2 separate regions of the Homo sapiens genome follow, and region 2 is linked to region 1. Evidence: fine-mapped expression QTL. A gene starts in region 1. The other region holds a variant in brackets. All regions are shown on one strand. Distances are from middle to middle. Region 1 holds the start of ZNF317 (zinc finger protein 317). Region 2 overlaps ZNF317 (zinc finger protein 317).

Region 1 (12,738 bases):
AGAATTCACAAGTTTTCTGTTTCTCTGTTGCACCAAAGGCAGTTCCATCATGACCCATCCAGTATCTTCTCCTTCTGGATTCAAGGTGTTTTTGATCTTGGGTCTTGATTTTGTGTGGCATGTACAACCTCAAAGCAATATGGTGAACTTTTTTTACCTGCTCTATCCCTAATGTATATCCACATTATTGAACTGCATTGCTCACCATTTATCAAAACTCCCATGCTGCCCTGACACATCTCTGGCTTCTCATCTGAATTGGCATCAACACAGAGACCTAATGCATTCAAGTCATTGGCACCTGACTCCTGTTCTTTAAACACCCAGCTATGCCATGATTCAGGATAATTTATTTTCTTTTATTTTTGAGACAGAGTTTTGCTCCTTCACCCAGGCTGGAGTGCAGTAGTGCAATCTCAGCTCACTGCAACATCTACCTCCTGGGTTCAAGCAGTTCTCCTGCCTCAGCCTCCCTGAGTAGCTGGGATTACAGGTGTGTGCCACCATGCCTGGCTAATTTTTATGTTTTAGTAGAGACGGGGTTTCACCATGTTAGCCAGGCTGAACTTGAACTCCTGACCTCAAGTGATCTGTCTGCCTCCCTAAATGCTGGGATTACAGGCATGAGCCACTGCACCCGGCCCCAACTTCTTCACCCTTTCGGCCTTACTGCATCTCCTCTCCTAATGCATAGAGGCCTCCAAGCCATCTATTCTTCAACCATGTTGCTATTTATTTATTTTTATTTATTTTGAGATGGAATCTTGCTCTGTAGCCCTGGCTGGAGTGCAATGGCGTGATCTCAGCTCACTGCAACCCTCACCTCCCGGGTTCAAGCAATTCTCCTGCCTCAGCCTCCCTGAGTAGCTGGTATTACAGGTGCCCGCCACCATGCCCAGCTAATTTTTGTATTCTATTTATTTATTTTGAAATGGAGTTTTGCTCTTGTTGCCCAGGCTGGAGTGCAATGGCAAGATCTCGGCTCACTGCAACCTCTGCTTCCAGGTTCAAGCCATTCTCCTGCTTCAGCCTCCTGAGTAGCTGCGATTACAGGCATGTGCCACCATGCCCAGGTATTTTGTATTTTTAGTAGAGACGGGGTTTCTCCTTGTTGGTCAGGCTGGTCTTGAACTCCCAACCTCAGGTGATCCACCCACCTTGGCCTCCCAATGTTATGGGATTACAGCCGTGAGCCACCGCGCCTGGCCAACCTCATTTCTTTAACTAGGTAACTGAGATTCAATCATATATTTTCCAAAACCTCAAATTCCCTACTCTCTGTCCTATCATAATACCTGCCCTGGAAAACGCTAACCATCTGTCTCTCCTGCCTACATAATTCTGCCGCCACGCGGTGATATGGGAAGCGCTAAAAAATTTGAGATCACCTACTCTAAAGGGGCCTTCGACACTTCAGGAAATTTCCAGTGGGCAAAGATCTTTTCATGATTTCTGCAGGATTTTGAATTCACACCATCTCAACTTCCCTCTTTTTTTTTTTTTTTTTTTTTTTTTTTTGAGACAGAGTCTTGCTCTGTTCCCAGGCTAGCGTTCAGTGGCACCATCTCGGCTCACTGCAACCTCCAACTCCCTGGTTCAAGCTATTCTCCTGCCTCAGCCTCCCGAGTAGCTGGGATTACAGGCACGCGCCACCACGCTCAGCTAATTTTTGTATTTTTTTAGTACAGACGAGGTTTCACCATGTTGGCCAGGATGGTCTTGATTTCCTGATCTCGTGATCCGCCCGCCTTGGCCTCCCAAAGTGCTGGGATTACAGGCATGAGCCACTGCGCCCGGCCACAACTTCCCTGTTTAATAACAAATGATTTTACAACTTACTGCAGAGAGAAATAGTAACGACCATGAGAAAGATTTCTCACCTTCTTTATTTTTTCTCTTATCCTAGATTCGAGAGATTTCTCACCTTCTTGACACTAGTGCGAAAGTAGTCCAGTAACAACATCACCAGTTCTTTCTTCTTTCACTCTGCAAGCAATGAGATGTCTGCCTTCTTATCTACAGCCAGTATCTCCTGCTTTTTTTTTTTTTTTTCTTTGATACAGAGTCTCTGTCACCCAGGCTGGAGTGCAGTGGCACGATCTCCGCTCACTGCAACCTCTACCTCTTGGGTCCAAGAGATTCTCCGGCCTCAGCCTCCTGAGTAGCTGGGACTACAGGCACGCACCACCACGCCCGGCTAATTTTTGTATTTTTAGTAGAGACGGGGTTTCACCATGTTGGCCAGGCTGATCTCGAACTCCTGACCTCATGGTCCACCCGCCCCGGCCAAAGTGCTGGGATTACAGGCGTGAGCCACCGCGCTCGGCCATCTCCTACTTTTCTATGCAAGGGTTTCTCATCATTGGCACGACTGACATTCAGGACCTGGTATTTCTGTTAGAGGGAGTAGGGCATTCTATACTCTAACCACTAGATGTCAGTAGTATCCCGGGTAGTGGTAAAACCAAAGGCGTCTCCACAGGTGGCACAATTGTCCTTGTTAAGAATCAAAACGTGCCTCACTCATAGGTGGGAATTGAACAATGAGATCACATGGACACAGGAAGGACATCACACTCTGGGGACTGTTGTAGGGTGGGGGGAGGGGGGAGGGATAGCATTGGGAGATATATCTAATGCTAGATGACAAGTTAGTGGGTGCAGCACACCAGCATGGCACATGTATACGTATGTAACTAACCTGCACAATGTGCACATGTACCCTAAAACTTAAAGTATAATAATAAAAAAAGAAAAAAAAACGTGCCTGGCGCCGTGGCTCACGCCTGTAATCCCAACACTTTGGGAGGCCAAGGCGGGTGGATCACTTGAGGTCAGGAGTTCGAGACCAGCCTGACCAACATGGTGAAATCCTGTCTCTACTAAAAATACAAAATTAGCCAGCCATGATGGCTAATTACAGGCTTCATACCTGTAATCCCAGCTACTCGGGAGGCTGAGGCAGGAGAATTGTTTGAAGCCGGGAGGCGGAGGTTGCAGTGAGCCGAGATCGCACCATTGCACTCCAGCCTGGGCGACAAAAGTGAAACTAAGTCTCAAAAAAAAAGGGACCCAGCGTGGTGGCTCACGCTTGCAATCCCAGCATTTTGGGAGGATGAGGCAGGTGGATTGTTTGAGCCCAGGAGTTCAAGACCAGCCTGGGCAAACATAGGGAAACCCTGTCTCTATGAAAAATACAAAAATTAGACAGGCGCTGTGGCATGCACCTGTAGTCCCAGATACTTGGGGGGCTGAGGCAGGAGGATCACTTGAGCCCGGGAGATCGAGGCTGCAGTGAGCCGTGCACTGCAGCCTGGGTGACAGAGCAAGACTTGTCTCAAGAAAAAAAAAAAAAAAAAAGGCATGATACTGGCATAAAAATAGAAACTAAAGGAACAGAACAGAGAGCCTGGGAATAAATCCAAACATATATGATGAACTAATTTTCAATAAGGGCACCAAGAGGACAAAATGGGAAAAGGATAGCCTCTTCCGTAAATGCTGCCAGGAAAACTAGATTTCCACATGCAAAAGAAGGAAATTTGACCCTTATCTTACGCCATACACAAAAATCAACTCAAAATGGATAAAAGACCAAATATATATATATATATTTTTTTGATATTACACCAAAAGATCAGACTACAAAAGCAAAAATTAGTAGACAAATGGGACTACATCAAATTAAAAAGCTTCTACATAGCAAAGGAAACAATCAACAGAATGAATCGGCGATCCACGGACTGGGAAAAAATATTTGCAAACCACATATCTGATAAGGGGTTAATATCCAAAATTTATAAAGAACTCTTATAAATCAATAGCAGAAAAACAAATAACCTGATTTTAAAATGGGCAAAGGGTCTGAACAGACGTTTTTCCAAAGAAGGCATAAAAAAGGCCAGCAGGTATATGAGAAGGTGCTCTACATCACTAATCATCAGGGAAATGCAAATTAAAACCACTGTGAGATATCACCTCACATCCTTAAGGAGAACTATCATCAAAAAGATAGGAGAGGCCGGGCGCGGTGGTTCAAGCCGGTAATCCCAGCACTTTGGGAAGCCGTGGCGGGCGGATCACCTGAGGTCGGGAGTTCGAGACCAGCCTGACCAACATGGAGAAAGCCCGTCTCTACTAAAAAGACAAAATTAGTTGGGCGTGGTGGTGCATGCCTGTAAGCCCAGCTACTCGGGAGGCCGAGGCAGGAGAATCGCTTGATCCCGGGAGGCGGAGGTTGCGGTAGCTGAGATCTCACCATTGCCCCCCAGCCTGGGAAACAAGAACGAAACTCCATTGCAAAAAGAAAAAAAAAAAGGAAAAAAAAGATGAGAGATGAATGTTGGCGAGGGCATCAAGCAAAGTGAACCCTAGTACATTGTTGGTGGGAATGCAGACTGGTACAACCTTTGTGGAAAACAGTATTCAGGCTCTTAAAGAAATCTACAACAGAACTACTATATGACCCAGCAATTCCTCTTTTGAATATATGCCTAAAAGAGATGAAATAATCACCTCATAACGATGTCTGCACTTTCATTTTCATTGTAGCATTATTTACAATATCCAAGTTACGGAAACAACCTGAATGTCCATTGATGCTCACATGAATACGAAATACAAAATAGCAGCTATGTAGTCTGAATAATATTCTATCTCTTTTGTATTTATATATGATGTCAACATTAATATCATATAATATTGATATATATTTCATATTATATTAAATATTAATATAATATGTTGTATATAAATATATACCTATTACATAATAGATATTCCCATTATGTTATATATCATGTAATATATTATATGTAATATATGTATATAATATACTATATGAAATACATATTATATATTATATGTATTATTATATGTATATATGCTATATATTATGGTGTATATATTATGTATTATGAAATATATATTACGTTATGTAATATAGATTATATATTATATATGAATATCTTATATCCATATATATTCCATACATACATTTTATATGTGTGTGTATATATATATATACGCACCATGGTCCATCCCCTCAATAATATATTTTCCAAAACCTCAAATTTCCTTCTCTCTGTCTTTTATAATACCTGCCCTGGATAATACTAACCATCTGTCTCTCCTGCCTATATAATTCTGCCCCTACTGGTTACATGGGAAGCCTTGGTTTCCTAAAGTGTTGAGATTACAGGTGTGAGCCACTGTACCCAGCCTGATTCTGGAATTTTGTATATGCAGACTCCTCCTGCTAAAATAATATATATTATATATAATATATATTCCATAATATATATAACATACATACATATATTATTTTAGCATATATTATATAATATACGGTAATAATACACATAATACATAATTATAATAAATATGATATAATATATATTCCATTGTATAAAACATATAATATATATAACGGAATATTATTCAACCTTGAAATAGAAGGAGGTCCTGACATTTATCACAAGATGGGTGGACCTGGAGGACATTACGCTAAGTGAAATAAGCCAGACACAAAAAGAAAAATATTGCATGACGTCACTTACATGAGGAACTTTTTTTAATCAAGAGAGACAGCTCAAATACACAGAAATAAAGAATGAGGCAGTTGGGGAAGAAAATGGGAAGATGTGGGTCAAAAAATACAAAATAGCAGATATGCAGGATGAACACCACACAGGTGATGGTGATTTTACGCCCTTCCCAAGGTGTCATTCAGAGGCACGTGGTCTCCATCTGACCCTCACTGGTGATATTGATTTGATCACCTGGTCCAGATGTTGTCCAATTTCTTCGCTGTACAATTTCTATTACTTTTTCTCCATTCCAACATACGAGCAGTTTATAGAGAGGCATTTAAGGCAATTCAAATATTCTGCTCGTCATGCAAATGTCCCCCAGTTGTGTCATGTAGATGACAATTCTTGCCTGATTCAACCTTTACCACTACGATGGCTACAAAATGCTGTGGGTTGTGGTTGAAAATTTGAGTCTTGAGTAGAAATTGGAGAAATATGCTGGACCGTCAGATTCCACCGGGGCACGGCCGCCATGCCAATCCAAACTTCAAAACTACAATTCCCAGCATCCTCTCCGCCCCGCTTCCGTATTAGACGCCGCCAATGAAGTCCCGCGAGAATTGGAAGGCGGCAGTGAAGCGGAAGCCATTACTCTCTGGAGTCGATTGCCCCGAGACACATGGGCCAAGGAGGGGTCAGCGGCGAATTCTTTCGGCCTGTTGGGGACCCCTCGTGTCCCCACGCCAGACTGGACCTCCCGTATGAACTTCTCTTCGCATCGGCGGCGGCTTCCGTCACCTCCGCTCCCCCGATCCTATTCCCAGTCGTGTAAGCCCTGCTTTCCTTAACCCTTCTCCCCCTCAGTTCCAGGGGTCACGGGAGGCCTATCTGGCGGTGAGGACTAAGAGGGTACGAGGGTCGGGGGCTAAAGAGCTAGGCATCCAGACGAGGGGTGCGTTTAGATCTCGCGATCAGCGATATGAAAAGCTGGGGACGCGAAGGATAAAATTGGACCATTGCAGCTAGTGATGAGAGAAGCATTGGTCACCTGATCCTGAAAAGCCCTAAGTCTCTGGTGGGGGCGGAAAAGCCCGGCTGAAGTGAATTCAAGAGTTTGGGGGCAGTTCAGGAGATTGGGGGGCGTCAGGATTTGGACATCGCGAGGAGAAATCACCTTCTTTCTGCGCTGTAGTCAATTTTATCTCGTGAATGTCAGCACATTGGTGTTCTTATTAGCACTTACCTTGAGTACCTTTTATATTTTTAATTTAAGACCTTCTGGTTGCACTTTTTTATTTATTTTAATTTTAGTGGACTCTTGTAAATAGCCTATATGTATATTTACTATTCAGTTCAACATTTTGTTAATTAACTTGAGTTAGTCCAGTTATACTTATCGTGATTATTAATATTTTCCATTGAATTTTACCGTCTTATTTTGTGGTGTGTCCTTTCCTATGCACATATTTTAACACTGGAAAATAGGACATACATGCAAAAAAAGTATGATTACACACACACGCAGACTTACACACACTTAAAAGGACAACAGTAAAGCGAATTTACAAACCAGGCCAAGAAAGAGATTATTAAATCTCAGAAAGCTGTGTGCCTCTTCTAAACTGCATCCTCCTCTCCCACCAATACTGTCTCCGTGGATTTGACTGCGTATACATCTTTTCCAGAAAATATATTTCCTAAATTTTGGTAATTATTTGTGAATGAACTCAGGCGCTTCAGTATTTTTGGAAACAATCTTTTTCTGTATTGATTCAAGCACACCTTTGTAATTTAGAGATTTCTAAATATCTTGTAGATGAAGTACTTACACCTAGCCATTCTTTTTCAGGAATGTCATGGCTTAAATTCTAGTCAGTTCACCAAATTCCACATACTGGACTTTTGTTTTCAAGTTGTGGTGAATCTATATTTGAACTTTGGGAATATTGTCGTTTTTATGCCATTGAGTTGCAGTTAATTGATTTACATCATTTATTTACATCTTCTTTAATGCCTTTCAATAAAGTGTTTTTTGTTGTTGTTGTTGTTTTTTCCTTTTTGAGATGGAGTCTCACCCTTGTAGCCCAGACTGGAGTGCAATGACAATCTCGGCTCACTGCAACCTCTGTCTCCCTGGTTCAAGCGGTTCTCCTGCCTCAGCCTCCCGAGTAGCTGGGAATACAGGCACCCACCACCACACCCAGCTAAATTTTGTATTTTTAGTGGAGATGGGGTTTCAACATGTTGGCCAGGCTGGTCTCGATCTCCTGACCTCAGGTGATCCACCGGCCTTGGCCTCCCAAAGTGCTGGGATTGCAGGAGAGAGCCACGATGTCCGGCTCAGTAAAGTTTTATAAGTACCTGCAAAAAGGATTTAGGTTGTTTTTGTTATATTTATTCTTGGGAACTTTGTTTTTTGGTGCTCAGAAAAGTCTAACTTTTGTGTAGTTTGTTGGATGTTCTTCGTAGACAAGGAAAATGTGTACAATTCAAAAGGAAAATACAAATATTTATTTTATACAGACGATAAATTGTCTTTTTTGTTTGTTTGTTTGTTTGTTTGTTTTTTGTGCTGGACTGGGTGGGGACTTCCCTTGTCATTGACTGGAGTTTGGATGGCACACTCTAGGCAAGCCTGTTTGTTTTCTGATCTTAAAGGGAATTGTCATTTGTGTCTGCCGAAGGCTTTTCTGTCGAATAGTTTTTATTAGGTCAAGGAAGCTCCCCTCTTTTCCTACTTGAGTTTTTCTTGTGAATTGCTGCAGGCTTTTAACAAGTGATTTTTTTTTTTTTTTTGCCATTATGTATCTGTTTATTGATACATTTTGTATCTGTTTGATACAAAATCTATATTGATAGTTTTGTATCTGTTTATTGATACATTTCTAGTACCTTAAATTATGGCACTCAGTACTGCTGTGTAACAAATTAATGAGTGAATAATATAATTTTTTTTCTATCCTGTAGTGTGGCAAATTAAACCAATTGATTTTCTCTTGTTACATTGAATTTGTATTGGTAAATAATTTGGAAAGGACATGTTACTATTTGTTACTTTTGGCTTCGGTTTGCTAATACTTTGTTTGGTGTTTTTGGATCTATGCTTGAGTGAAATGTTCCTTTTCTGTTTCAGATTTATGCCAGCCTCATAAAATGGGATGAGAAGTGTTCTGTTTTCTAAACTCTGGAATGTTTTGCATAAGAATAGAATATTTTGTTCCTTAGAACGGGAGTGGTACCTGGAAAAACCATTTGGGTCTGGAGTTTTCTTTGTGGAAAGTTTTAAAGCTATTGTTTCTGTTCTTTTAAGGTTTGTGGGGCATTCAGGTTTTCTGTGTTGTTATGATGAGTAAAATTTCTTTAGGAATTTATTTATTCCATCTGAGGTTTAAATCGTATAGTCAGGGTTGTTCATAACATACTCAAATTTTTAATGCTTGCTGCATTTGTAATGTTATCCACTTTTTTATTTATAATAATTATATGTTGCTTTTTACAAAAATAAATTCCATCAGAATGTTGTCAGTTTTCTTCTTAAAGAACTTCTGGCTTGATTGAACCACTTTATGATATATATGTTTTCTATTTTATAACTTTCTGATTGTTATCATTTTCTTCCTTTTTGGGATGTTTCTTTCCAGTTTCTTATGTTGAATGCCTGTCACATCCCAAAGAATTGCAGTATCATACTTTATTGTATTTTAATTATAAATATCAAATATCATGGCTTCTTTGGCATGCAGATTTAGAATTTTTTTCTTTTAATTTTCATTTCTGTGACTTTTTTTCTGGTTATCTTTTGGTCATTGTTTGCCAACTGCATTGCTCTGTGGTCAAGCATTTTCTGAGACAAACATGGCCCCATGAGTGCTGTCTCATCATGTTCAATCTGCACATAGTTATTGAACTGCCTGCTTAAACTGGATTTGTGAGAGCTCTGGTGGTGGCTTCATCCATTTCTCCTTAGAATTCTGTCCCCCCTTTTTTTTTTTTAATTTTTGTGTTTTCCTTTTTTTTGAGGCTGTGTTTTATACACACAGGCACACACACACACCTCTTTTTGGATTTATAACTTTTTATTATGTAATACTTCATTTTTCTCTATGAGCCTTTTTGCCTTAATCTATTCTGTCTGATACTAACATTCAAACCAGCTTTCTTTTTTTTTTTTTTTACTTGCCTTATATATCCTTTTATTTCCATTCTTATTGTACTCTTTTTTCTTTCTTTCTTTCTTTCTTTCTTTCTTTTTTTTGAGACGGAGTTTCACTCTTTTTGCCCAGGCTGGAGTGCAATGGCGCGATCTTGGCTCACTGCAACCTCCACCTCCTGGAATCAAGTGATTCTCCTGTCTCAGCCTCCCAAGTAGCTGGAAGTACAGGCGCATGGCACCACACCCAGCTAATTTTTTTATTTTCAGTAGAGATGGGGTTTCATCATATTGGTCAGGCTGGTCTCGAACTCCCAACCTCAGGTGATCCACCTGCCTTGGCCTCCCAAAGCATTGGGATTACAGGCATGAGCCACCGCGCCCGGCTCTTATTGTATTCTTATATTTTAGATATCTCTTGTACGTAGCATATAATTGGATTAATCTATTCTGTGAATATTAGTATTTTAGTTAAAGCATTTATTCTGTTAGCATCTTCTGTATTAATATATTTGAATGTTACATTTGTCTTCTGTTTTTTCTCTAGCTTCTTTTGTGTATTTTTGTCATTCTCCTTTTTTATTTTCTGTACATTTTGAATTTATTTACTCTATTATTTCAGTGGTTGTTCTAAATAATTCTTACCCATGCTCATTCACTAAATCTAGATTTGCATATGTTACTCTCCTGATTTACATGGTTTTCTTATGCATTTTCATTCTTTCTTTATTGATATATCATAGTTGCACATATTGAGTTCTTTTTTTAAACCTCAGAAGAAATTATTATTGCTATTGCATACCATCATTTCTTGTTTCATTATACTCACATGTTTATCACTTTGAGCACTTTACTTGGTTCTTACACTTTTTGGTGTAATTCTTCCACTGTTTGCTTTGGTTCTTTAATTACTTCTTTCTCCCTGAGGTATGTCTTTGATGATGTCTCTTTTCTGTGGGTTGCAAGCCCACAGGAACTTTGTTTTTTGGTGCTCAGAAAACACCTCTTTCTCTCTTTCTCAGTGGACATTTTTGGTGGTAATAGAATTTTATATTTCAGAACTATGAAGATGTTCCATTATCTTCTGGCTTCCACTGTTAATGATGAGAAGTCAGCTGTCAGTCTAATGTTTGTTTGTTTGTTTTCTGAGACAGAGTCTCACTCTTGTTGCCCAGGCTGGAGTGCAATGGCGTAATCTCGTCTCACTGCAACTTCTGCCTCCTGGGTTCCAGCAATTCTCCTGCCTCAGCCTACTGAGTCGCTGGGATTACAGGCATGGGCCATGACACCCAGCTAATTTTTGTATTTTTAGTAAAGACAAGGTTTCACCATGTTGGCCAGGCAGCGGTTTTAGGAGCCTAGAAATGTGAGTTTTTCGTTTTGTTTTGTTTTGAGACAGGGTCTTGGTATGTTGCCCAGGCTGGTCTCGAACTCCTGCGTGCAAGTGATCCACCTGCCTTGGCCTCCCAGCATGCTGGGATTACAGGTGTGGGCCACCATGCCCAGGCTTACTTTGTTTCTTAATGGAGAGATATTTACGGTGTGTTTTAACAAGACCTCCAGGTGACTCCCATGTAACTTAAAGTTTGAGAACTATTGCTTAAAAGGTAACCTGTCTTTTTCTCCTCTGGCTGCTGTTCAGATATTCTTTTTACCGTTGGTATTATCTGGTTCATTGTGCTTAAGATTTTATCTCTCTTCAATCTGTTTATATTTTCCTTCAAAATGAAAAATCTACAGCCACTATATTTTGCAGTGATTGCCTAGGCTCCTTCTCTGTCTCTCATCAGTAACTCCAGTTAGAAATGGTTCAATTCCTTATCTTCTGCCCCCACGTGGTTCTTAGCTGTATTTATGTTCCTCAACTCTTTTTCTGTGCTTCCCTTGCATTTATTGCTACAACTGGCTTTGAAACTTCAGCCTTCATAAAAATTTCATGTAGAGTTTATTAAAATACTGATTCATCAGCCCACCCCAAAGAGAATTGAACTGAGATATGATCTGGGTGTCAGAGTTACTTAAAGTGTTCCAGGGGACGCTTATGCAGCAGACTATATTTAAGAAACAAATTATTATTATTATTATTATTATTGGCTGTGTATAATCTAAAAGCTATTTACTTAGGGCTTTTGTTGTGGGTTTCCATTTTGCTTTTTTTTTAGCAATTGTAATTGCCCTTTAGAAATCATAAATTTTTAATTTTCTGAATGTTAATTTCTTGCCAGCACATGAATTTGAAACCTATCATCTGTCTGTACTTTGTGTTGCATTTGAAATAGTTATGCATGGAAGGTTTAATTGGGGCACCTAGGTTGCTTGTTGGAAACAGAATTCCTACCCTGCTCCCCACCCCCTGGGACATCTCATCTAGCTGGTTGAAAGGAGGGTATATTGATTTACTAATGTAATGCATTTCTGGACCAAGAAAATGGCATATGATGTTCTCACAACCTTTGTTGCCTTCTCTGTCTCTCGCTATATATATATTGTATATATTATTTATATACTTTTTTTCTTTTTTTTTTTTTTGAGGCAGTGTCTCATTTCTGTCACCCAGGCTGGAAGTGCAGTGGCATGATCTTGGCTTACTGCAACCTCCGCCTCTCAGGTTCAAGCAATCTTCCCACCTCAGCCTCCCAAGTAACTGGGACTACAGGCATGTGCCACCATGCCTGGCTAATTTTTTTGTATTTTTAGTAGAAACGGGGTTTCACCATGTTGGCCAGGCCAGTCTTGAACTCCTGACTTCAAATGATCTGCCCGCCTCAGCCTCCCAAAGTGCTGAGATTACAGGCATGAGCCACCATGCTGGGCCTATATTTACGTGAATAACAGTGGTAGAAATGGTTCTAGCAAGGGCAGAAATACCAGTCAGTAAAAGTAACAAAATAATTATTCTCTCTACAGTATTTACATCTGCAAATTCTGAATATCCTGGGATACTGTGATTAAGTTGAATATGGGGATAAAATCAAATATTGGGAGAATTATGGTCCTGAGAAAGCTCATAATGGAACAGTTTTGGGCAACATTTGTTTTGGACCACAAACTTGATGG
Region 2 (12,738 bases), 27 kb after region 1:
TTCAAACCTCACCGCACACAGGAAGATACACACGCAAGAGAGACGCTACGAATGCGCCGCCTGCGGGAAAGTCTTCGGTGACTATTTATCCCGGCGGAGGCACATGAGCGTTCACCTTGTAAAGAAACGAGTTGAGTGTAGGCAGTGTGGCAAGGCCTTCAGGAACCAGTCAACGCTGAAGACGCACATGCGAAGCCACACGGGGGAGAAACCGTACGAATGCGATCACTGTGGGAAGGCCTTCAGCATAGGCTCCAACCTGAATGTGCACAGGCGGATCCACACCGGGGAGAAGCCCTACGAATGCCTTGTCTGCGGGAAAGCCTTCAGCGACCACTCATCCCTCAGGAGCCACGTGAAAACTCACCGGGGAGAGAAGCTCTTTGTGTCATCCGTGTGGAAAAGGCTCCAGTGAGCGCGCCTGCTTTAGAGACACAGGATGATTCAGACCGGAAACAGACCTCGTGGGTGTAAGAGGAAGCCTCTGTGAGCTCGCACCTTACTGGGTGCAAAAGAATCCACGGAACTTGGGAGAAGTCCAGTTCCTGTAAAAACTGGGAAGACGAGGCGTTCTCATCCCATAGGAGGTTTGTGAGAACTCACGCCGGGGGTGAAAATGTACGTCTGTAGCATGGAGAAGCCTTCAGGGTACATTCAGCTCTTAACAAACACAGGAGGACTTAATGGCAGCTTGGCATTTAATGTCAAAATCCAAGCCGTGGCATTTAATGTCAAAATGACTTCAGACCACTTCTAGCCTTCTGGGCCCATGAGTAATAATGAGCACACTAGGGAGCATCTCTGTAAACACAGTGGCTGGGGAAACCCTTCCTAGTCTCACTTGATTCCTCATGACGGAAATCACACTAAAGAGAGAAATCAGTGAAGTAAGGAACGTGGAAGGTCATGAATGGGCCGCAAACCACGGCCAGCTGCTTGTCTTTGTATGGCTTGCCAGCTAACAATAGTGGTTCCATCTTTAAGGAAGAAGAATGTTTGATGGAGAAAATTTGTGGCCAATGAAGTCTGAAATACTTCCTGTCATCTGCCCCTTTCCAGAAAAACTTGGCCGACCCTTGGTCTACAGCACGGGTTCTCAGTCGGGCGACGATTTGGCTGTCTAGGCGTCATTTGGCAATGTCTAGAGACATTTTTGGTAGTTAGAATGGGGGGAAGATACTCCTGACTTGTAATAAGAAGACATCAGAGATGCTGCTAAGTCGGCTCCAGCACACAGGAGCCCCCCACAACGAAGAGTTAGTGCCCCCAAACGTCACTGTTGCTGAGGTTGAAAATAATCATGCAGTCATTCCTCAATTACTGCCTGCAGCAATTCCTCCATTTTTATGAATCTTGTGAGCACTTACGCTAGGAGAAATTTCTTTTACAAAACTTTTAAAATACAATTAGTGCTGATAATTCCTATGTGGAAATGATTCCAGCCATGGTCCCCTCACTTGAGCATGTGAATATTCTCACGGAGAGAAGCCCCAGCGAGATTTTCCGGTGAATACGGGATTGCACTTACTCTTTCATCACGGAAACAGACCCCCCGAGAGAAGCCCCAACGAGATTTTCCGGTGAATACGGGACTGCACGTACTCTCTCATCATGAAAACAGAGCCCCGTTCATAAATTTTTCATCTTTATTTTTAAGGTTATACTCCTCTAAATAACCCTTAAGCCTCATCAAGAAAGGTTTGTTTATAGTATTTTTACTATAGCTTCATCCTTGATAACGTCCTAATTTCCTTCTGGACAACCTCCTTGACCAATGGCATATTGAGATCTATGTGACATGAGGATATTTCTCAGTACCACTTTGTTACTGGTACCTGATGCACACGGATTGCGACCAGAGCATGATGCCTCCATCAAGTGGTAATATGTTTGCAGCCTGCTGTCCAGCCAAGAGTGACAGATACTTCTAGTGACTTCCCCGGTATCCACTCTCATCTTCTTCCAATATCAAGAGAATCCAGGTTCTGTCAGATTAGTAAGGTGTGCTAATCTAAATTTTAAAAAATCTCTTACAGGTTTTCTTGCAGCTGGTACCATCCATGTCTCACAGCCCTGGCCACTGACAGATCAGCAGATGTCACCACATGGGCTTCTGAGAAAGCTCTTGAATGGGGATCGTTCTTAAACATGAATTCCTCCCTGTATGTTTTGTTCTTTGCTTTACTTTTCACCTTGCAAAGAGATCCAGTACCTAGTATTGGAAGATCCACCTTAACGACCGTGCATATGAAAACCACAGTCTAAGGAAGTGACTGCAGAAAGCTCACAGCGACCCTGGCCTCCCCTGTGGCCTCTTTGAGTGTCTGCAGCAGCCCTGGACTTCCAGACTTCTATCACATGAGAAAAAATAAAACTGATTATTGGTTTAAGCTGCTATGGATATTTCATTGTTTTTCTTTTAAATTTATTTATTTTAAGATGGGGGTCTCCCTATGTTGCCTAGGCTAGATTCGAACTCCTGGGCTCAAACAATCTTCCTGCCTCAGTCTCCCAAGTAGCTGAGAATACAGGCATGTGCCACCACACCCAGCTTGTTTTTCTATTTCATTTGTTTATTGGTGGGAGGGGGTTTCTACACCCAGCTGGATGCTGCCTGGAGCCCATACACCTGGTCATTGGTCAGTTGTGTGGTTTTTTTTTGTTTTTTTTTTTTTGTTTGTTTGTTTTTTGAGACAGAGTCTTGCTCTGTCACCCAGGCTGGAGTGCAATGGCGCGATCTCGGCTCACTGCAAGCTCTGCCTCCCAAGTTCATGCCATTCTCCTGCCTCAGCCTCCTGAGTAGCTGGGACTACAGGTGCCCGCCACCACACCCGGCTAATATTTTTTTGTATTTTTAGTAGAGATGGGGTTTCACCGTGTGAGACAGGATGGTCTTGATGGCCTGACCTCATGATCCGCCCACCTTGGCCTCCCAAAGTGCTGGGATTACAGGCGTGAGCCACCGCGCCCGGCCATGTTCAGATGACTGATTAGCCTATCAAAGGCATTCTTCCGTTTCTTTATGGTGGCTTTGATTTCTGATCTTTCCTTCTGATTCTTTGAGTCTCTATTTTTCTGCTGATGATGTAGGGCAGATGAGCCCCCAAACTGGGGGTTAGCCCAGGAGGGTTCTTGGCTTTGCTCAGGAAAGAATTCAAGAGGCAGCCAGCAGTAAAAGAAATTGGGTTTATTGAAGCAGCAGGGCACAGCAGAGTGGCTGCCCCTTGTGGAGCAGGGCTGACTCATAGGCAGTATACCCAGGGTAGCAGCATATAGGCTGTTGGCTAGCAGTATTTATACCCAGTTTTAATTACATGCAAATTAAGGGGTGGGCTATTCAGACAGCACTCCTCATTCACCTTCCACCATGATTGTGAGGCCTCCCCAGCCATGTGGAACTATGAGTCCATTAAACCTCTTTATGAATTAGGCAGTCTCAGGTATGTCTTTATTAGCAGTGTGAGACACAGTTGCTCCGGCCTATAAATGACACATAGTTTTAAGTCTGTTTCCTGCAGTTCTCCTATGATTGGCCAGGGTTTTGATTCTGTTTTGTTTTTTTGCATTTTCAAATTAAGGGTAGATGATTCTGAGGGTCTTGCTCCAGCTCTGTCTCAGGCCCCCCCACCAGCTATCCCTCTTTCTTGCAGTTTACCTAACAGAGCCTTGGGGTGGGCATGTGTGGGACCGTGGTGCTAAGATTTAATGCTTTTTCTCATTTTACTCATAGTTATGTTGCAATTTTGGCATTCTCTATGTCTTAAAGGCAGTGTTGAAGGTATAGTTTTGTGTAGAAGATTCATAGGTGTGGAGTTACTTCACAGCATTTGAAAGGGGATTTGGGGAGGTTGCTTACCACTCACTGGCCATTGTTTTTAGTTACCTGGAAGTCTCCTCACCTTAGTTTTTGGAGATACTTTGGCTGAATATGTTATTTTATTTTATTTTAATTTATTTTTTGAGACAGAGTGTCGCCCAGGCTGGAGTGCAGTGGCATGATCTCAGCTCACTACAACCTCCACCTCCCAGGTTCAAACGATCTTGTGCCTTAGCCACCTGAGTAGCTGGGATTATAGGTTTGCACCACCATGCCTGGCAAATTTTTGTATTTTTAGTAAAGTTGAGGTTCCATCACGTTAGCCAGGCTGGTCTTGAACTCCTGACCTCAGGTGATCTGCCTGCCTCAGCCTCCCAAGGTGCTGGGATTACAGGTGTGAGCCACCGCGCCTGGTCTGGATATGCTTTAAAGGGGTCATTTCTTTGTCTTCTGGCCTCCATTGTTGCTGACTAAAAGTTAGCGTTATTCTTAACATTATTCCCCTGTAAGTAATGTAAGTAATGTGTTGCTTGTCACTGGCTCCTCTTCAGATAATTATCTTGGGTTTTCAACAGTTTGACTCTGTGTCTTGGTGCAGTTTCCTGTGCATTTACTCTGCTTGGGGATCCTTCAGATTCTTAGATACGTGAGTCACTGTCTTTCACAAGGAAGTATTTGGCCATTATTTCTTCATAATTTTTTAATTGTGGTAAAATAAACATAACATGAAATTCACTGGGTTTTTTTGTTTGTTTGTTTTTGTTTTTTGAGGCAGAGTCTCGTTCTGTTGCCCAAGCTGGAGTCCAGTGGTGCAATCTTGGCTCACTGCAACCTCCACATCCTGGGTTCAAGCAATTCTCCTGCCTCAGCCTCCTGAGTAGCTGGGACTATAGGTGCGCACCACCATGCCCAGCTAATATTTGTATTTTTAGTAGAAATGGAGTTTCACCATGTTGGCCAGGATGGTCTTGATCTCTTGACCTCATGATCCACCTGCCTCGGCCTCCCAAAGTGCTAGGATTACATGTGTGAGCCACCGCGCACAGCCCCATTTTAATCATTTTTTAGGTGTACTGTTCGGTGGCATTAAGTACATTGACAATATTGGCTACCACCACTATCCATTTTCAGATCTTTCTCTTCATTCCAAAAAATTATGTACCCATTAAGCAATCACTCCTCAACACTTCTATCTTCAGCCCCTGGTAACTTGTAGGTAGTGTCCATGAATTTTGTCAGAAGTAGAATAATAAAATACGTTGTTTTGTGTGCGTCTGCCTTATTTCATTAAAAGTAATGTTTTCAAGGCTTATCCATGTTGTAGCATGTATCAGAATTTCATTCCCTTTTATGGCTTAATAAATTCTGTTGCATGTATGTGTCACGTTTTATTCATTCATCTATTGATGAACATTTGGGCTGTTTCTACCTCTTGGCTATTGTGAATCATACTGATATTGATGATTTTTTTTTCTTTTTTCTTGAGATGCAGTCTTGCTCTGTTGCCCAGGCTGGAGTGCAGTGGCGCGATCTGGGCTCACTGCAACCTCTGCCTCCTGGATTCAAGCAATTATCCTGCCTCAGCCTCCAAAGTAGCTGGGTACTCGCCGAGTAGCCTGCCACCATGCCCGGCTAATTTTTGTATTTTTAGTAGAAACGGAGTTTTACCATGTTGGTCAGGCTGGTCTTGAACTCCTGACCTCAGGTGATATGCCCGCCTCAGCCTCCCAAAGTGTTGGGATTACAGGTGTGAGCCACTGCGCCCAGCCTGAAGACAGCATTCTTAGCATGAAGGATGCAAAGTTGAGGCAAAGGAGATCTATCCAAACCAACCTCATTACACTACGGCTTCTGAGCCACTTCTCTACCTGATTAACCACCCTAGCCCACACCCTTGGTTTTATCCCATTAGCGCAGTTTACTTGTCTGTCCAATTCAGTTTATAAGTGTTTGGCTCTTAACTGCTTTTCTGGCTTGTTTCCTTATGAGGAACCCCATGCCACATAAAACTTTCATTAAACAAATACATGTGTATGCTTTAATCTTGTTAACCTAATCGTATGTCGGTGTAATTATCAGGCCCAGCAAGGATCCTAAGATGATGAAGGTGAAATCTTGTTGCCCCTACAATATGGACATTGGATGCAAGTGTCTGTGTGAGTTCCTGCTTTCAATTCTCAGGAATTTTCCGAAGTTGTTTTCTTCCTCATTTTCTCCTTTTGGGACTCCAGCTGCGCCACAGGACTCTGAAGTTCCTGTTT[C/T]ATTTTTCTAATGTGTTTGTTTTCCAGTTTGTATGACTTCTACTGATATATCTTAAAGTTCACTAACTCTTCTGTCCTCTTCATCTGTGGAATCCATTTAGTGACTCCTTAAAATCCAGATGTCTGAGGTCCTTAGGAAAACAGGTGCTTCTCCCTGTTGTAGCTTGAATTTGCTCTGAATGTGGTGGTCCCCTAAGCCAATAACACAATGCCTCCTGGCCTGCCCTGGCCACCCAGGGAGGAATGAAGGGAGAGGTAGGTGTAGTGGTAATAAGCCTTGCTGTGCACAGCTTTGTGTAATAACTGAAAAGGGTGATGTGTTTTCCTGCTCCCATCCCCAAGCCTGATTTCTTCAAGATGCAGTAACTGGGACGGGTGCAGTGGCTCATGTCTGTAATCCCAGCACTTTGGGAGGCCAAGGAGGGAGGATCACGAGGCCAAGAGTTCGAGATCAGCCTGACCAACATAGTGAAACCTCATTTCTACTAAAAATACAAAAGTTAGCCGGGCGTGGTGGCGCGTGCCTGTAGTCCCGGCTACTGGGAAGCTGAGGCAGGACAATTGCTCGAACCCGGGAGGCAGAGGTTGCAGTGAGCCGAGATCACACCACTGCACTCCAGCCTGAGCGAAAGAGTGAGACTCGGTCAAAAAAAAAAACAAACATGTAGTAACTGACACCCCCCACACATGCCCTCCCCTCCACCTCCTGTTATTTCATTAGAAACCCTGCCAAGGAACAAGGAAATCCTACAAAGAAGGTGTCTCAGGTACCCATCAGCAGCCATGCAGTGATGACAAGTGGGTCTGATGCCATTAAAAGGTTGTTTTCAAACCACCTTCTGTTGCAAGCAGAACCCAATTGCACAGGAATCCAAGCTCCATGATGGAGCTTTGGCCATTGTTTTTAGTTACCAGGAAGGAAAATGGCAAGATTGAGATTAAGCCTGGAGGCCCGGCGGGGACCTCATGGCTGTGAAGACCCTGGACTCCTGTGTTGCTGGAGATAGTGTTTGTGCTCTCACATGGTCTGCTCAGCCGTCTTTCTGCCATTCAGCACAACGGAAGGACCTAGTGTGTTTCCAGGGTGGGAGCCTACGAGTGGTGGACTCTGACTTTGACATTCGGGACAGATTTATTCCTTAATTTTCTTCCTTACATACTTGGTTCATCTGAGGGCCTCAGACTCCCTCTCCAACAGCCTTCTACCCTCTCCCATTTCCACATTTTCATTTTTGAGCTTCCTTAGCTAAGTGGTTTTACTTTCTTCCCTTTCCATCTCTCTCTCTCTCTTTATATTTCTTTCTCTAGATTTTTAAAATTCTGTCTCTCTCTTTTCTCCAATTTCTCCATTTCCCTCTTTTTTTTTTTTTTTTTTTTTTTTTTTTCTTTTTCTAAGTCAGGGCCTGACTCTGTCGCCCAGGCCAAGTGCAATGGCATGATCTCAGCTCACTGCAACCTCCACTTCCCAGGTTCAAGGGATTCTCTTGCCTCACCCTCCAAAGTAGCTGGGATTACAGGCACACACCACCACACCCAGGTAATTTTTTGCATTTTTAGTAGAGACAAGGCTTCACCATGTTGGCCAGACTGATCTCGAACTCCTGACCGCAAGTGATCCTCTCCCATTTTGGCCTCCCAAAATGCTGGGATTACAGGCGTGAGCCACTGCGCCTGGCCTTACATTGTTATTCTGCACACATTGGCCATTGCGGGCATCGTTCCTTACCTGAGTGAACACATCCATGCATTCCTAATATGTGTGTCCTGGGAAACCTGGGTTTGGAGTTTGGAGTTTGGAGTAGAGAGGCCAAGGGTTTGCAGTCAGGCAGGTTACTTGCAAAATATTTACGTATCAGTCAGATACATTGGCTCATGCTTGTAATCCCAGCAGTTTGGGAGGCTGAGGCTGGGGGATCACATGAGGTCAGGAGTTGGAGACCAGCCTGGACAACATGGTGAAATCCCGTCTCTACTAAAAGTACAAAAAAATTAGCTGGGCATGGTGGTGCATATCTGTATTCCCAGCTACCTGGGAGGCTGAGGCAGGAGAATCACGTGAACCAGGGAGGCGGAGGTTGCAGTGAGCCGAGATTTTGCCACTGCACTCCAGCCTTGGTGACACAGCGAGACTGTGTCTCAAAAAAAAACAAAAACAAAACAAAAAAAAATTATATATATATATATATATATATATATTATGTATTGTGCTAAGTTTCTTCTTTGTAAAAGCCCTTGGGGGACTGTTAAGTGTGTGTCTCAGCTTGGATTTGGGTTTTTTTAGACCAGAGATCCCTGGTCCCTTTGGAGGTGTGAGTATGAGGGTATTTGTGTCTCTTGAGAAGGTCTAAGAGTTGCCATCAGTTTGGTGGCAGGGTATGTTGTACTTAGAGATCTTGTCAGAATGGATAACTCATTTTACCTCCATCACTTACGAAATGACTTTTATCAGCTACATTAAAATGCTAGCAATGTCATACTACATTCTCATAAATACTGGGAATTAACTAATGACTTTCTTGTCCAGGTATTTATAGGCTTTGGCAAGGCAGCAGTACACAAAACTGGTCCCATTCATAGTAATCTTGACGTTAAACTTTGGAGCCAGAGTACAAGCGAATAAATAAACACTAGGAAGAAAAGTAAATGCGGAGAAGAATAAATGCTGTGAGGAAGAGTAAAGTTGAGGAGGGGAACAGACAGATGGGATTGACCCGTTCAACCTGTGCAGTGTACAGCGTATACTCTTTTTTTTTTGAGATGGAGTCTCGCTCTGTCGCCAGGCTGGACTGCAGTGGCGGCGATCTCGGCTCACTGCAACCTCTGCCTCCCGGGTTCAAGCGGTTCGCCTGTCTCAGCCTCCCAGATAGCTGGGACTACAGGCACCTGCCACCACGCCCTGCTAATTTTTTTGTATTTTAGTAGAGACAGGGGCGTACACTCATTTTTGGCCACTTTACCTTTTTAGGAAACAAAATCATCACAGAAATCCTCAAGAGGCAGCTTTCCTGTACATTTCAGTTTCTCCTAAAACAGAACAGGGCTGGGAATGCTTACTGAGGAATCATCAAAGCATTTCTTTCTGTCATGACAAGAGCAATTCCAGCTTGCTCCATGAGACCCTGCTTCTCTCACTGTATTTGGTTTTCAGGTTGCAAGATTTGAAGAACACTTGTCAAAACTCGACGGTTATTTCTGTTTTCAAGGACTGTTTGATCTGCATTTTCTTCCAGTCCATTCATTTCTATCTGGTTTGGCCTCCAAGGTCTTAATCTTTTGCCCAAGAAAACGCTTACATTTAAGCAACATGAGTTCCTTGATTTGTCTGTAGCCCAATGCTACTTTCTTGAGTTCAGAATAAAAGCTGATTATTATTATTATTTATTGTTATTATTATTTTGAGACAGAGTCTTGCTCTGTCACCCAGGCTGGAGTGCAATGGTACGATCTCGGTTCAGTGTTACCTCTGCCTCCCAGGCTCAAGCAATTCTTCTGCCTTAGCCTCAGGAGTAGCTGAGGTTACAGGTACCCACCACCATGCCTGACAAATTTTTGTATTTTTACTAGACAGAATTTTGCCATGTTGGCCAGGTTGGTCTTGAACTCCTGGCCTCAAGTGATCTGCCCACCTCGGCCTCCCAAAGTGCTGGGATTACACCAGCCTTGGGACTTGACAGTTTTTTTTTTTTTTTTTAAGATGGAGTTTCGCCCTTGTTGCCCAGGCTGGAGTGCACTGGCGCGATCTTGGCTCACCATAACCTCTGCCTCCCAGGTTCAAGTGATTCTCCTGCCTCAGCCTTCCTGAGTAGCTGGGATTACAGGCATGTGCCACCATGCCCGGCTAATTTTGTATTTTTAGTAGAGACGGGGGGTCTCTCCATGTTGGTCAGGCTGGTCTCGAACTCCCAACCTCAGGTGATCCGCCTGCCTCGGCCTCCCAAAGTGCTGGGATTACAGGCGTGAGCCACCATGCTGGGCCCTTGACAGTTATTTTGACCTAACATTGGTGATAATTTTTCTCTACCTCAACCAAGAAGATGGCGGATTGGAGCACTTTTTTCATAGATTGACCAGTCTTCCCAACAACACTGGAGGCCAGTCATTTACTTTCTGCAGAGAAAGAGACATGTCAAAGAGTCAACTTACCAGCTGGAAACTGGGACTAGTGTCAAGTGCTTACTCTGACATTCAGCTCTTGTTTCACCTCTTGACCCCTTTCATGCCTGCATCAACCAGTGGATCTGCTGGGCTCAGAGCACATGACAAAGGGGCTTGTGGTGTTCCACTTGGCTTCCTGAAATCCCTTCCTTTCCCCTGGCAGTGCTTCCACGCAGGACTTTGAGTGTGTAGTCGGGGCAGTTTACATCCCCAAGTGAAAATGCTGAACGTTCAGCAAGCCTTGGTCAAAAGTTTTCCTAGGCTCACTAGTGAAGAAATAGCAATTACTCACTGGCTATTGCCAGGATTGAGAAAAAGAATGTGTACCCTAGAGGCCGGGCCCAAGGGGAAGAGAGTACTTTCTCTCAGCATTGAGTAAAATCGGCCATTTTTTAAATGAGCCTTGGGAACCAGCATAACTGGTCCCTTTGTGCCCAATTTCTCCATCCCGATAATGAATTCCATGGATAACCTCAGTGGCCCATGACAGTTGCCTCTCATTGCACTTCCCTGCCAGTTCTCAGAAAGAAAGTGTCACACAGTCTCTGGAGGGAACTTCTAATTACAGGAACACAGTCTGCTTGTCTGAGTCTTGTTTTCAGTTCTTGGACCCTCTCCAGCAGGGAAAATCTCTGTCTTGTGTAACCTTTGGGTAACATCCAATCCACTCAGGAATTCTTCCCTGCTAGGGAACCTATTGTATATACCCAATGAATATTAGCTAAGTGCCTTACACTTTTAATTAGGTTTTGGGAAGAAAGATCAATAAGACAAAGTACTGCCCTTAAGAAAGTAAAGGTCTAGGAGAAGAGCGATATTAACAGTAAATAAGACACCTAGTATGGCAGGTGAATCCATTTGGGAGGCCCCAGATGAGGAAGATGTTGAACTGGGGGCCATCAAGAAAATCTAAGTAGAAGAGATGATGCAAGCTCAGTGTAGAAGGATGATTATGATTGTGATTATGATTATTTGGAGATGGAGTCTCGCTCTGTTGCCCAGGCTGGAGTGCAGTGGCGCGATCTCAGCTCACTGCAACTTCCGCCTCCCGGGTTCAAGCGGTTCTCCTGCCTCAGCCTCCCGAGTAGCAGGGACTACAGGCACACGCTGCCATGCCTGGCTAATTTTTTGTATTTTAGTAGAGACAGGTTTTACCGTGTTCTCAGGCCAGTCTCAAACTCCTGAGCTCAGGCAATCTGCCCACCTCGGCCTCCCAAAGTGCTAGGATTACAGGCATGAGCCACCGAGGCCTGCCTTGTAGAAGGCTCATTAAGAGTTCAGGAGCAGAATCAAATAAGCATGCTAATCCTGAGTGCAAAGGCACTGAAAAAATGACAGTATATTACATTCTGTAGATAAAAGACAATCTTTGGAGTAAGAGGCAGACTTGAAAGGTAATATGGGACAGATTGGAGAACACACACATTTCCTTTATTCTCTCTCTTTTTTTAAAGACTCGGTCTCATTCTGTCACCCAGATTGGAGTGCAGTGGCATGACCATAGCTTTCTGCAGCCTCAACCTCCTGGGTTTAAGCCATCTGCCAACCTCAGCCTCTTAAGTACCTGGACTATAGGCACACACTACCATGCCTGACTAATTCTATTTTTTTTATTTTTGTAGAGACACAGTCTTGTTATGTTGCCCAGGCTAGTCTCAAACTCCTGGGCTCAAGCAATCCTCCTGCCTCAGCCTACCAAAGTGCTGGGATTACAGTCATGAGCCACTGTGCCTGGCTCACACACATATATCTATATGTTAGTCTACTAGTTTCAATGTAAATGTTAGTTGGAAATCGATGGAAACAAATTGATATTCAATGAAGTTTGCAGTTGAGCAAGGTAACTGGTTCCCAGTTGCGGAATGGAATGAAGGGTCCTGTTTCTATGAGCTTTTGTTTCATAGCCACCCAAAACATGGTGGTTTAAAGCAACCACCAGGCCGGGCTCAGTGTCTCATAATCCCAGCAGTTTGGGGGCCAGGCAGGAGGATTACTTGAGTCCAGGAGTTCAAGACCAGCCTGGGCAACATGGTGAACCCCCGTCTCTCAAACAACAACACCCCACCACCTTTTATTTAGGGTTTGTTTGTTGACAATTTGGGCTGTGCTTAGCCTGAGAGTTCTCTTGACTGGCTTCTGCAGTCACTGTCTAGGTGGGGTGGGGTTTATTGTTCTTCGTTCAAGGTCTCATTCCTCCAGTCGTCCAGGTAAGGCCTGTTCACACATTGCTGGAGTGTTCCAGCAGAGCTTGTATTGGGAATGCCTATGCCCCATCAGCCAGTGCAATCATGGGTGAGCCCAAGGTGGAAGGGCACTCAGTTACACAAAAGGGGCTTGGATATAGGGAAGAAAAGACACAGTGGCCATTCTTTTCTGCAGTTGGCCACAAGGCCAGTATATTATTGCAAGAGTCTAAGTAAGGGGAACATCTTTATTGAGAAGTGATGAACATGTGGGAAATTCACATATTTATTTATTTATTTATTTTTTATTTTTTTTTTTTTT

What was found. PIP is the estimated chance that this variant, and not a neighbour inherited with it, causes the effect.
Region 2: its variant is fine-mapped to the expression of ZNF317 in monocytes after interferon gamma (Fairfax 2014, PIP 0.95).

What each region holds. Positions count from the first base shown.
Region 1 is chr19:9,134,234-9,146,971 of GRCh38, forward strand. ZNF317 (zinc finger protein 317) reads left to right here and starts at 6,164. Exons shown (of 7, transcript NM_020933.5): 1 at 6,164-6,359. RefSeq lists enhancers at 5,827-5,926, 5,977-6,186.
Region 2 is chr19:9,161,019-9,173,756 of GRCh38, forward strand. It overlaps ZNF317 (zinc finger protein 317), which reads left to right. Exons shown (of 7, transcript NM_020933.5): 7 at 1-2,395. The coding sequence ends at 415. Among named protein-coding and RNA genes, the nearest start is that of OR7D2, 12 kb to the right of the region's middle. The variant C/T (reference allele first, on the strand shown) is at 6,079.